Linked DNA regions of Homo sapiens: regions 2 and 3 are each reported to be linked to region 1. The links are microRNA targets in miRTarBase. Many come from high-throughput screens and were not tested one by one. Region 1 holds a microRNA gene; each other region holds the end of a gene's coding sequence.
Evidence for each region. Region 1 holds the annotated microRNA hsa-miR-4282 (UAAAAUUUGCAUCCAGGA, at 1,105-1,122, shown strand). A microRNA usually pairs through its seed, bases 2 to 8, with sites in the 3' UTR of a target mRNA and lowers its output. Matches are read on the target gene's strand: a 7mer-m8 pairs with bases 2 to 8, a 7mer-A1 pairs with bases 2 to 7 and ends in A, and an 8mer does both.

Region 2: the mRNA of SMU1 is a reported target of hsa-miR-4282. Seed matches in the 3' UTR shown: 7mer-m8 at 2,937-2,943.
Region 3: the mRNA of NUP50 is a reported target of hsa-miR-4282. Seed matches in the 3' UTR shown: 7mer-A1 at 2,405-2,411, 7mer-m8 at 1,769-1,775 and 7mer-m8 at 1,431-1,437.

Annotation. Positions count from the first base shown.
Region 1 is chr6:72,964,574-72,968,818 of GRCh38, reverse strand. It overlaps MIR4282 (microRNA 4282), which reads left to right and starts at 1,066; the gene lies at 1,066-1,132. All of the region lies in intron 1 of KCNQ5 (potassium voltage-gated channel subfamily Q member 5), which reads right to left. The region is part of intron 3 of LOC105377855 (a long non-coding RNA gene); the gene reads left to right.
Region 2 is chr9:33,043,922-33,048,166 of GRCh38, reverse strand. It overlaps SMU1 (SMU1 DNA replication regulator and spliceosomal factor), which reads left to right. Exons shown (of 12, transcript NM_018225.3): 11 at 1-61; 12 at 776-4,245. The coding sequence ends at 874. Among named protein-coding and RNA genes, the nearest start is that of DNAJA1, 21 kb to the right of the region's middle. RefSeq lists a silencer at 3,509-3,828 and an enhancer at 3,683-4,184.
Region 3 is chr22:45,184,236-45,188,480 of GRCh38, reverse strand. It overlaps NUP50 (nucleoporin 50), which reads right to left. Exons shown (of 8, transcript NM_007172.4): 8 at 464-4,028. The coding sequence ends at 3,826. All of the region lies in intron 3 of LOC105373064 (a long non-coding RNA gene), which reads left to right. Among named protein-coding and RNA genes, the nearest start is that of MIR1249, 15 kb to the left of the region's middle.

The DNA of each region.
Region 1 (4,245 bases):
GCTTCAATTATTTTTGGCCGAGATATTATATTTGTACATCTCTATGTTTGTAAATATTGCATATATGTATATATGGATAATTGTGGAAGTAAGAGCTATACACATCATTAGTTAATCTGATAAATAAACTTTAGTTAGTTTTAGGAGAATATCTCTGGATTATAAGAATAAGCCACTTCATAAAACATTTGTAAAACTTTGTAAAAACAAGTACATAAACAATATAGAAATGTATAACTTAGAAAGTCAAAGTCCCTAATAATCATTGTCTACACCTTTGCCTTCCTCTTTCAAATAATCAATATCATCAATTTGGGAGATATAATCTGAATTTCCCCCTCCTCATCACATGTTCTGTTTTTTTTTTCACTTATTTCTTTAAAAGTCTATCCTCCTTTGAGATTCTTTTCTTCACCCGTCTAGATCATAATGATATTTCTCTTCTCTACACTTTCAGTACTTTGAGTTTGCATGTTAATAATAAAATGTCTCACACGGTTCTCTAATTCAGTATTCCCCAGACTGTTTTCCATAGAACACCACTATCCCAAGAGATTTTTATAGATCTGTCTCAAGAAAAAGTTGCTCTGTCAAAAACACTTAGGGAGTTCTGGGTTCAATGACAATAACTGTATTTCTTTGTTGCAGAACTTCTGAGACACTGTGAGTGTGTGTGTGTTTGTATGTTTGTGTGTGTGTATGTAAGTTTCTATTCACATTTTATATAAATGAAAACATATCTTTGTCACATATATCAGATGTCCAATTTTGAGACTTGGTTGTGTTGGGGTCGCTAAGGAGAAGTGGCCCTGCGAATGAGGAAGAGACAGTGAGGGTCAAGAAGGAAGGTCAGAGTAAGCAGGGAAGAATCCAAAGAACATGGTATCCTAAAATCCAAAAGAGTTTTCAGAAGGAGAAAATGGGTCAGGTGCAGTGGCTTATGCCTGTAACCTCCACACGTTGGGAGGCCAAGGTATAGGGATCTCTTGAGGCCAGAAGTTTGAGACCTGCCTAGACAACATAGTGAGAACCTACTGAGACATCTTTAACTTCTTAGGTGTGAATGGTGAAGTTCCAGGGGAAGATTTTAGTATGCCACATTTCTAAAATTTGCATCCAGGAACATCATCCTATTCACCTTCTGACTGATATCTTAAGTGACCTTAATGGTTTTTAGAACCTTGTATGGAAAACTCTACATTCTTGAGAGCAGGGACTTTGTTCTTCATTCCTTTTTGAGACCCTTGTAGTGCATAGCATAGATCTGAAAACATCAAAGCACCCAACAAATATCCGTTGATTGCATCATATGGTTGAAGGAAATAAAAAGAAAAAAATGAAAAATATATTGAAAGATAACTAATATATGCCCAAACTTTTCACCATACATTTTCCTCACTGATTTATTTATCTTGAATTAAATAAAGGGATATTTTTTTGTCTTTAAGATGTACATCTTAAAATTACATAATACCATTATATTTCACTATACTGATCAAAAGTTATTGCATAGGAAGGGTGTACAGACTGATTATGAAATCCCAGTGAGAATATGAAAAATTTGCTGACTAAAATTTTTATAGTGCAAGAAATGTGTTTCTATCCTAAAGAGGGTTATAAAATGGGAGAAATAAAACCCTAAGAGTCATATCATTAAATTTATGGAAGTTCATTTCCTGTGTGTGAGGAGAGTCTAATGGAAAACTTTATAACCATGGACCTTCTCCTTTGTCACAGCTGAAGGGATCCAATGCTAAAATTCTGTTCCATGTAACAAAAAGTACAGTAGAAGAAAATATTGTATCTTGAGTATATTCCTGTCCTTCTATATCTTCCTCTGACTTCTGTAAGATATATTTTAAAAACTCAGTCCACATTCCTTAATTCCTCCAACTCCCTCCAGAAACAACAGGTCTTCAAGGTGTAATTGGGTAACTTTTATTGAAATCAGCTGTTGGTAGTCCCTGGCAACCATATGTGCCAGTTATTGAGTCACAGAGGAAGTGCTGGGTTCCTGAACACAGTCTGTATGGAGTAAATTCTCGAAGCATTTGGCCCTATCTCACAATGCCTCTCACTTTGCCCTGCTCATGATCCAGTCATGGATTTTAAATTGAACCCATGTTTCTGTTTCCATACTGAAAGTTAAGTTTTAGCATAAATATTTGAGGGTCACCACAAATTTAAGAGGATACCTTTCAAAATATGCTTTTCTTTTTTTTCTCTCTCTCTTTTTCTTTCTTTCTTTCTTTGATGGAGTTTCACTCTTGTCACCGAGGCTGAAGTGCAGTGTGGTGATCTTGCCTCACTGCAACCTCTGCCTCCCGGGTTCAAGAGATTCTCCTTCCTCAGCCTCCTGAGTAGCTGGGATTACAGGCGCCTGCCACCATGCCCAACTATTTTTTTTTTTTTTGTTATTTTTAATAGAGACAGGGTTTCACCATGTTGGCCAGGCTAGTTTCGAACTCCTAACTTCAGGTGATCCGCCCGCCTTGGCCTCCCAAAGTTCTGGGATTACAGGCATGAGCCACCACACCTAGCCTGCTTTTCTTTTTATAATACAAAAACAAAATAACATTTTTGATTCGAACCTTATTGGGAATATTTGACTGCTAGTCATAAACTGCCTAAACTAATAAATAACAAAGTAATATATTTATGAGACAGCAACAAGAAATTCTTCTTGGGCTCAGGATGATATCTCAAAGTAATAAAAATATATGCTATCTTCTGTATTTGGCTTCAGGACCTGATGGTGGTGGATGGTGGGAAGTGCTCTAACTCGACTGGAGGCAGCACCTCCCCTTCTGCTCCAGCACACGGCCTTGGGCAGGCACTTTAACCTCCCTGGGACTGGCATCTCTCTTCTGTAAAACCAAGAGGTTGATCTGCATAAACACAAATAGCACTTCCACATATGTCCAAATCCATGACAATATTATTCCAGGTAAAAATGTGCAGCAGATCCTCTTACACATAGACAAAGTGGGCCATTCTGTTTTACAAATAGCACTTTTCAAGCAATGTGACTTTTTTGTGCTTAACCCAGTAATGAGCATTTCCTAAAAATTTAAATGCTAATAAGATAAACCTTAATAGCAACTTGATTGTGGAAGTTTGGATTTAAAAATAAAATAGATAATAACTCTGGAGATGACAGGACCACTTTTCTCCTCTAAATTGTTTGATGCTGTGGGTCAGTGGATAGGAAAACAATAAGAACATCTGCTCAGATGACACACTTCACATTCCCGATGAGGCCATAATAGTTCACGATGAAATGTTGAGAAAATGGCTTCTAGGAAAGAAAAAAACAGAAGGAGATACAGCCATTTCTCATTATTTGCAGTGGCAGTTATGTTCTGTAAAGTCACTACAAACACTGAATTAGTAAATACCAAGCCATTGCTCGTAGGGATATACAGGACTAAGTCCCCAGGAGCCTCTGGTCTCATCAGTTTTATCAACTTATCAATACATATTATTGTTTTACCTGTGCTTCCATTTAATGATACGTTATTTAATATTGTTGATTCACTAATGTTGAACTCACAGCCAAGAGCACTGTAACTCATGCCTGAAAGAAGCTTATCTAACCAACTGTGTTTTCTCCAAGAGGCTCATCACAGCCTTCTTGTGCTTTGGAACAGTAGACAGCACTTCAGCACTACTCTTGGGGCCAATTTTAAGTGGTGAAATTATCAACAAAAAGCACAAAAGGCTGAGCATGCCTGTAACCCCAGCACTCGAGGCCGAGGTGGGAGGATCACTTGAGACCAGGAGTTTGAGACCAGCCTAGGAAACGTAGTGAGACCCAATTTCTACAAAATAAACAAATAGATAAATAAAACGTAAACCAAAAAAGAATTTTTTTTTAAAAAAAGCACGAAAATGTGAAAAACAGCAGAAAATAGGTCTTGCAAGGGACACATGTTTACAGTGTGAGTGCTGAAACAAGAAGACAAGAGTGTCAGTTTGTTCAAACTCAGTTGAGAACCCGAATGTTGGGAGACTAAAATTTTTTTGTTGCTCTGTAAAGGGCCACAAAGGTGCCATAGGTGTTATTTCACCTCATAAATACATTTTTAGTGGGTTAGCAAATTTGCAAACATGGAATACACTAATAATATTGAGGATCAACTCTGTATAAATTACATATAAATTTCAAAATATGTAAAATTCTAAGTATCATAACTTTTTTATTTAAAAAGCAAAGAATGGTATTGCTGTTATTAAATTATATAA
Region 2 (4,245 bases), not on the chromosome of region 1:
GGAGGACTTTGTGCTCTACTGTTTCAGTACAGTCACTGGCAAACTGGAGAGAACTTTGACAGTGAGTATTACTTACTAAGTTCATCTAAAGAAATATGGTAGGACTTGTGTCTTTCTGAACTCTGAAGTATGTGCCTTTTCCAGAGCTATCGATGTGACCCTCAGTATAAAATATGTTGTTTTAAAACATTTAGCTCCATGTCAAATTCAAGAAGTAAAATTAATGTCAGCTGCTATGATGATCCCCAAATCTCGGTGGCTTAACACTATATAAGTTTGTTTATTTTTATTTTATTTTATTTTATTTTGAGAGGGAGTCTCACTCTGTCACCCAGGCTGGAGTGCAGTGGTGTGATCTCGGCTCACTACAACCTCTGCCTCCTGGTTTCAAGTGATTCTCCTGCCTCAGCCTCCCAAGTAACTGGGACTACAGGCACATGCCACCACTCCTGGCTAATTTTTTGTATCTTTAGTGGAGACGGGGTTTCACCCTGTTGGCCAGGCTGGTCTTGAACTCCTGACCTCAAGTGATCCACCCGCCTCTGCCTCCCAAAGTACTGGGATTGCAGACATGAGCCACTGCGCCCAGCCTAAAGTTTATTATTATGTCACAATGTGATGTGAGTTGGAAAACCCTCCTCCATCTTTCTCCTATGCCATTTGGAATATGTGGCCTCCCAAGATCTCTTTTTCCCTTCCACCCACCTCTGGAAGCCTCATCAGAGTGATTTATTGCAGATCTGTACATCCTAACCCTGTGCTTTACATGTTCCAGGTGCACGAGAAGGATGTGATTGGTATTGCACATCACCCTCATCAGAACCTGATTGCTACCTACAGTGAAGATGGACTCCTAAAGCTCTGGAAACCATAATTCAACTTTTCTTTTTAAATCAGCTCGAAAGCATGTACTTAAATGAAGCATATTCATGTAATGTGCTTTTTTTTTTTTTTGCCAGCTTTTCTAAGCAAATAGATTGTCTGAATTAGTCACAGAATAATTTTGTGAAAATTCATGTTTAAGTAGCAACTACCCTTTCTTTTTTTATATATTTTTAAGGTATTAGTTTATCTTCTTCTAACTGGTGCAGTCACTTAATGTTTTCATTAATCTTCGACCTGGAGAGTGAAATACTGATATTTCTAGAAAAAAATTCTACTCCTCTGATTATTTGAAATGCTGAGGAAAATGTCCCTCCCATAGTAAAACTTGTAAATAAGGAACTATATCATATTCAGTAGCTGTGTTCTGTTCCATCTTTTTTTTTTTTTTTGAGATGGAGTTTTGCTTGTTGCCCAGGCTGGAGTGCAGCGGCACGATCTTGGTTCACTGCAACCTCCGCCTCCCAGGTTCAAGCGATTCTCTTGCCTCAGCCTCCCGAGTAGCTGGGGACTACAGGTGTGCGACACCATGCCTGGCTAATTTTTTTGTATTTTTAGTAGAGATGGGGTTTCACCATGTTGGCCAGGCTGGTCTCAAACTCCTGACCTCAAAGGATCCACCCGCCTTGGCCTCCCAAAGTGCTGGGATCACAGGCGTGAGCCACCATGCCCGGCCCATCTTTTTTTTTTTTTTTTTTTTTAAAGATGTTAATAAACTTTATACCTTTCTGGAGACTTTGTTCTAAAATGTACATAAATGCTCATCTAGTTAACATATTTACTTAGAATGTGGGAGGAGGAGTCACATTATTATCCCTGAATCTCAAGTACAGCAGAAGTGAATTCCTGGGATAGTAGGATAGACTAACATGTAAAAAGGCCAGGTGATGCATAGGTTCTCATTTCACTGCCCTCAGCCTTCCTCTCCTTCTGAGCTGTGCCTTCTCACATGTTCAGTCAACTCCAGGGAATATTGTCTCCATCTTCTGGATAGAACTAGTTGCAGGATCCGTTACAAGAATTCAGAGTTTTGGCATCTCCCCTTTGTATGTTGTAGGAGAAGGTTTGGCATTGAAAATGTGCTGTTGTTCCAAAGAAAAATTAGCAAAGGACTTGAGATTTAGAAAAGTCTCCTTTGTAATGTGCATCATTACCAGTTATCTAAAGAAAAACATGTAAAAGCCAACAAAACCCTTGAAAATATTTTGCATATGGATGTCTGTTTCACGTTTCAACTGAAGATGTATAGAGCACCTCTGATGATGAGGAAGATACCATGCTAGGCAGTACTTTCAAGAACGTGAGTTCTTATTTCTGCAGGCCTTTTGTGCCCCCTTTTAAATGTTAGCATTTATTAGGTACAAACTAGTGGGGAAGGTTTTTTTAAAAAGTTTTGCAGTCTTGTAATTTACCTTTTTAAAAAATTTATTTTATTTTTCTGAGATGGAGTCTTGCTCTGTTGCCCAGGCTGGAGTGCAGTGGTGCCATCTCAGCTAACTGCAACTTCCACTTCCCAGGTTCAAGCGATTCTCCTGCCTTAGCCTCCCAAGTAGCTGGGACTACAGGCGCATGCCAGCATGCCTGGCTAATTTTTGTATTTTTAGTAGAGCGGGGGTTTTGCCATGTTGGCCAGGCTGGTCTTGAACTCCTGACCTCAGGTGATCCGCCTGCCCTGGCCTCCCAAAGTGCTGGGATTACAGGCATGAGCCACTGCGCCCAGCCTTGTAATTTACCTTTGATGGTGACCTGAAATGCAGTATGATCCTATATGTGGCACGTAGTAATGTTCAGTGTTTGCTGAATTAATTCTGGGCAGCACTAAGAAATCCCTCTTTCCCAGTCATATTCTATAACACATTTCCCATTTGCCACAAAACCTGCAGCTTTTTGGTCCAGGTAATGACATTTGCTGCCATTTTGATGATTTAAAAATGGTCGTGGGAGTTGAACATAGTCATGAATTCAGGATTCCTGAGCATGTAGACAGTCATCCCAGTGGAAAGACACGTTCACTTAAGAGAAGTTTAAGTTAGAGGAAACAGTTTATGCTAAAAAAATTTTTAGAAAAGTCCTTGAGAATTTTTGATTTAGTCTTGACCTCATGAAGCTGGTAGTTATGATGTGCATAGTTTGTATCACCGTTTATGAAGATGGAGAATCTAGTCAGCACGTGTTGGTTTATTCTAGGAATTTTTAGGGAACACTTCTGTTGCTGGCACCAGGTGATGAATATGGTTAAAAAAAGACTCGTTTCTGCCTAAACATAGGGAAGAAGAGCAAATTAAAAGGAGTAATTAAAACTGATAAAAGCTCAAGTTACCTTTGTGATGATGAGGCGGGCAGTTAACGCGAAAGGGTTGGGAAAGGCTTCCTGGAGGGACTAGGGGGCGGTCTAAGCACAGGGAACCTAACCGGGGACTCCAGTGTGGCACAGCGGCAAGGTATGTGCTGGGCAAAATGATAGGTGTCTTGGGAGACCAGGCAAAGAGAGCTGGATTAGGAGCCGTTAAGTATATATTTTTCTTCTTTTTAAATAAAATAATGCACTGGGTGAACATGTAAACGCTAAGTTGAAAATCTGCCTTTCCCAGGTAACCCTTGTTAATCTTTCTACAACTTCATTTCGTACAAACCTGAAAAACACACTGATTTTGTCTTTAAATGGGCACACGCTGCTTACACTCCTCGGCGCCTAGCCTTTCTGAAGCCCCACGCGGCCGTCCCTCCAGCATTGAAGGCTGGGGCAGCCCAGCTCCCCTCCAGCGCCCTTACAGCCAGACCGCGGCGGGGTCGGGCCGCGCACGCGCAGGGCGGACGGCCGGATCTGGGGCGCCGCTGCTCCGGGTGGTCGGAGGTAGGAGTCCCATCTTGGGTCCAGGGCCGGTAGAGCCCCTTACCGGGGGTAGGGAGACTGCGCACCCGCTAGAGCCAACTGTCAGGGCCTGCAGACGTCGGGTGACGTCACTGTTACAAAATTGGCGGTCACATCGTCTTAAGGGCCGGTGGCAGCGGCTGCGCGAACGGGAGTTGGCTGCCGGGAATCAGTGCTCACTTCCTTCTGAATTGGGCGTGTGCAGTCGGTTCCTAGGGAAGTGCTCTGCTGCAGCCACCAGATTTAACGGATGCTGCTCTCTAGCACTTAACATAGAAGCTAAACTACCTGGCGTTAAAATTAATTCCATGAGCATAAGGACATTTGTCCTATCCCCTATTCTGCTGTTGAATTAATGACTGGAAAACATTGCGCGGAGGTATTTGGGAGTAGTATGGCTTTTTTTTTTTTTTTTTTTTTAACAGCAAATGGTATAAATCTCAGGTACAATTCAGTATCTTCTTCACCAGTTGTTTTTTTTCAGCATGTAT
Region 3 (4,245 bases), not on the chromosome of region 1:
TAGATGTTAACGGTTCAGGAAAATACTTTGATGGATAACTTAAATCTTTGCAATATTATTTTTTTAAACCAGAAAATACCCCTTATAAACCAAATAAATGCTGAGTAACATAGGAAAGGTTAAAAAATAAGTCTCAAAGGTTTGCTTTGAGGACTAACCAAGGTAATACATATAAAGCACCTAGCCAATGCTTTGCACACTAGCCCATTAAGGATCAATTGTTCCCATTCCAATCTGTTAAGATTTTAATCCAACAGAAACCCTTGGTCTGAATGGTTTAAAAGTAGTCTCGGCCCCCAACAAGGAGTCTGATAATAAACTGGTCTCTCACTCACCTCCAAGCTGACCTTCCTGTTGTTCAAGGAAGTTTCCGGTTGCAGCTTCTGCGTTGATTCTTCTTCCTCAGGTCTGTCTGACTTGTATTAATGCCAAGTGCATCACAGAGGAACATAAGACTCACACATTGGGATTTTGTTTACTTTTCATTTATTCACATTTCATGGATTGTTACACTTCCTCGATGGGAGCATTCAAAAACTAATACAAGCTGAGATTATATTGTCTGACAATTCAAGTATTTTAGTTTTAGAAAACAATTTCCTATTTAAAGTAAAAAGCAAACAATTTATCCATCTGATTGCTAAGAAGTTTTACATCTCCATTACAATTGTGTCTGCATCAAACGGAGAGTCCTTCGTCCTCAGTATGATTGTTACTGGCTGAGAACATACGGTGACCTGTGTTCTGAGTGCCTGCTTGGAAAAGACCTCCCTGTCATCTGCCATACTACGGGACAAATCAGTATCTACTCAAATTCCCACTTCCAGAATGAGAGGACTCATCAGGGGTTTAGGAGTTTGCAAAGCCTTCAAAATGTATCGTGCTTGAATTTTGACTCTTCTGAAATAGAATAACTGACAAATGCTCAAAAAACAAACTTGTTTAACTTTTACTGAAAAGGCTCTCAGTGAAAACTTGTTTTGAACTCTACTAGTAAGGTAGAATATTAGTTTTTCTTCCCCTCCACACCAGAAAAGGCAGTTTTCTCTTTTTTTTTTTTTTGGCATGCAGCATATATAAAATGTGATCTAGAATTGAAATTGTAAAACAGAATAATCCTCTTAAAGAAAATCAGCCTATGAACAGTCAGACTTGTCCTTCCATGGAAAACATAATCTAAACTTCTTTAAAAACTGGCCATATTTTTTCAGTCTGTAATTCGAATAATGAAGATGGCATAACAAATTTTTTTGCTTACTAGGAATGCGCAAAAGGATGAGATGGATACACAGGTTTTAAAAAAAAAAAAAAAAAGGCCACTGGGATATTTAGTATTTGTCCAGATGCAAAACAATTTCAGAATAACAAAATACACACCTTGCTTTAGGCCACGTATATGATACACTTCATAGATTCTCAAACAAAAGATGAAAATTTCAGTCCACATTAAACATTTTAAAGCATAACTTCTAATATTTTGTTAAAAATAAGTCAAACTAAACGCATAAATCAGAATTACCTGTTAACATAGTGGGGAAAGTAGGGAAGCCCTCCAGGGGCCCCGTGCCCCAAGTAAAAGACAAGGAGTTAAATTTTACAATGAAATCCACGTATACTCAGGCTCTTTACACTAATAATCAAAGTGGAGACCAACCAGTTCCTAAAGCATAAAAGAGTGATTTTAAGAAAATATCACATTTTGAGTTACGGTATATTCATCACATTTTTCCCTGTAATTTTCACTTTAACAGTGATAGTCTTAGCAGCAAAAATTTGCTGGGAATGTTAGGAAAAAAGGAAGCCACACATACCTACTAATTTAAAAATATATAAACTATTTTTTACAGAAGGGCAGGTTTAAAAGAAAATCCAATCATGATCTTTTCATGCCATTTTTTGTCAACTTTCCATACACACGCAGACGCTAACAAAGTACTGTGTCATATACACTGAAGTGTCCTGAAGATGCCTGTGAGCTGCTGATTCCAGCTGGTACCAGGGAAGCATGTGTGGCTAAGTTGCAACAAACTTAAATTTGTTCCCCTTAGTTCTTCATCTTTTTAAAAGCTGAATAAACTTAATGTCAATCGGGTGGGGCCGGTATTAACAGCATCAACCGCTTGCTTACTATGAATCATCCGCAACAGAAACCCACGTGCATTCTCCATTCTTAAAAAGTCAGTGTAAAACTAACGGCCACTTCCTCCCTAGGTGCCTACTATCGCTATGTCTGACAGCATCTGTAACAGGACAAGCTCACCTCTCTCTACACGGATTCATCCAAAGCCACACACTAGGCCAAATTCTCCCAGTGGAATCAAAACACTGGAAGTAGAGCAAGAACCTCATGCCAACATTGGCCCAATCACACCTCAGTGACTTAGGAGTTCATCATATTTGATCATAAAATTGCTCCCGGCGCCAAACCTTACACCTAAAGACTGTAGTTTTAAAAAGCCACTGTACCGTCCACAATTATTCTGACCACTCTTTTCTAAATGGAGAATGTGCTACGCACTGAAGATCAGAACACACACGCGGGAGCCCTTGGGCACTGACCCTGAGCCTGTACACAAGATCAGCTGGTACTAGTCTCAAATGATTCATGAGGACTCAGTGGAAATTTAAACATTCAATTCTGTGTATCATTCATGTGCCCAGAGTCTTCAAAGAATGCTCGTGTTAGTTACCTGACACCTCTGGAGAAGTGACAGGGATATTCGTGTGAATAACCATGGCTCCCTTCCAGACAGACATATGGAATCTTACTCTTAAAAAAGTAAAGATATTTCAGATATCAAATGTATTATAATATACTGCGGTCTAAAGTTAAAGGCAAAGTTTACACACGATTTTCTCTTCCATGACTTTATTACATGTTTCCTAGTGAATTCACACGGCTCGTGTGTCAAAGCTCCCAGGCACGTCACTTGGTCACAGTTTTCATGTGCGTGGGGTTGATCATGGTACAAATGCCTATGCGCATCTTTTTCTCGGATGGTCTCATTTGACTTTCATTTCGTAAGGGTTCACTCTCCATGGTGTAGATGATAAGCTACCACATTTGTGCTTTTAAACCCATTCCTGGCAATCCCCCTTTATCTTCATTTTGTCTTTAGGGGGATAAAGAAGTAACACTACCTCATGAATAGAAACTATGAAGCCAAAAAACTCCTTCACAAGCTGTTCATTTCTTTTTAGAATGAAAATGCAGGTCCTGAATTCTCGTGAAGCAGCCCACAGGGTTACAGGCCAATGATTCGAACGCTGAGGTGAACACTTAGTACTCGCATTTGAGCTTCAAAGTAAAAATAAAGCAGAGGACAAACGCCTGTCACAGCGTGGCAGCCCGGTTCATTTGGTAACAGAACAAGTCTCACACGTCGGCTGAGCCCACCGGAGAGAAGCACACAGGCCAGCTTCCTTCTGAACACAGCCAGGCACCTGTTCAAAAGCCTCTCTCGTGGTGGCGGTGGACCCCAAAACCCACGGGTTGGAAGAGCCTTTGGGAAAGCAAATTGATACCCTGATTGCAGTCCTTGAAGAAATCACTTAGGGTTAGTTTAATAAACGAACATTAAAAAATCTTCCAAAAATTGCATTCAAATGTATTTTACACTTTAGGCAGTTCTTAAGAAGGGAGAGTGCAGTTTCTTGACACTTAACATTTAAAGGTTTTATTGGCCACATTAATCTTCCTCACAAAAGTTTTAAGTTATCTATAAGTTCTTAGAATGTCAAAGAAGAGAAGAAAAACTGACTAACTTTAAGGGGCGGTGGAAGCAGCAGCAACTTGGCAATAATTCTGCAGCCGACTTTGCGTGTTCAGGCATCCTTTTTCTCCAGTAAAATTTTGTGCAACTCGTCTGCATCCTCGCTGGTTTTTACCCGAATCAACATGGTGACTGGCATGGTGGCATTCTTCTCGTCAATTGGTGGATTTGGAACACAGACGATAAGAACGTTATTCTTCCCTGTTCGCGTACATGGCATATTGGGTGGAATCAGAACGTTCAGCAATATGTTGCCTGCATTCAAACAAACAAAACCCATCAAAATTATAGAAGCTATAGCTCCACCAAAGGAGTCTGTAATATGCTAAACATTAAATGCTGAAATAACTTAATACATCTAAGACAGGGAGCCAACAGGACAGCACAAAATCAGGACTGGTTCCCTGAGAACTGGGAGGCCTCGGGGAGCACTTGCCCTCACTGTGAGGAGTGGCCTTCCGTCCTCCCTCCA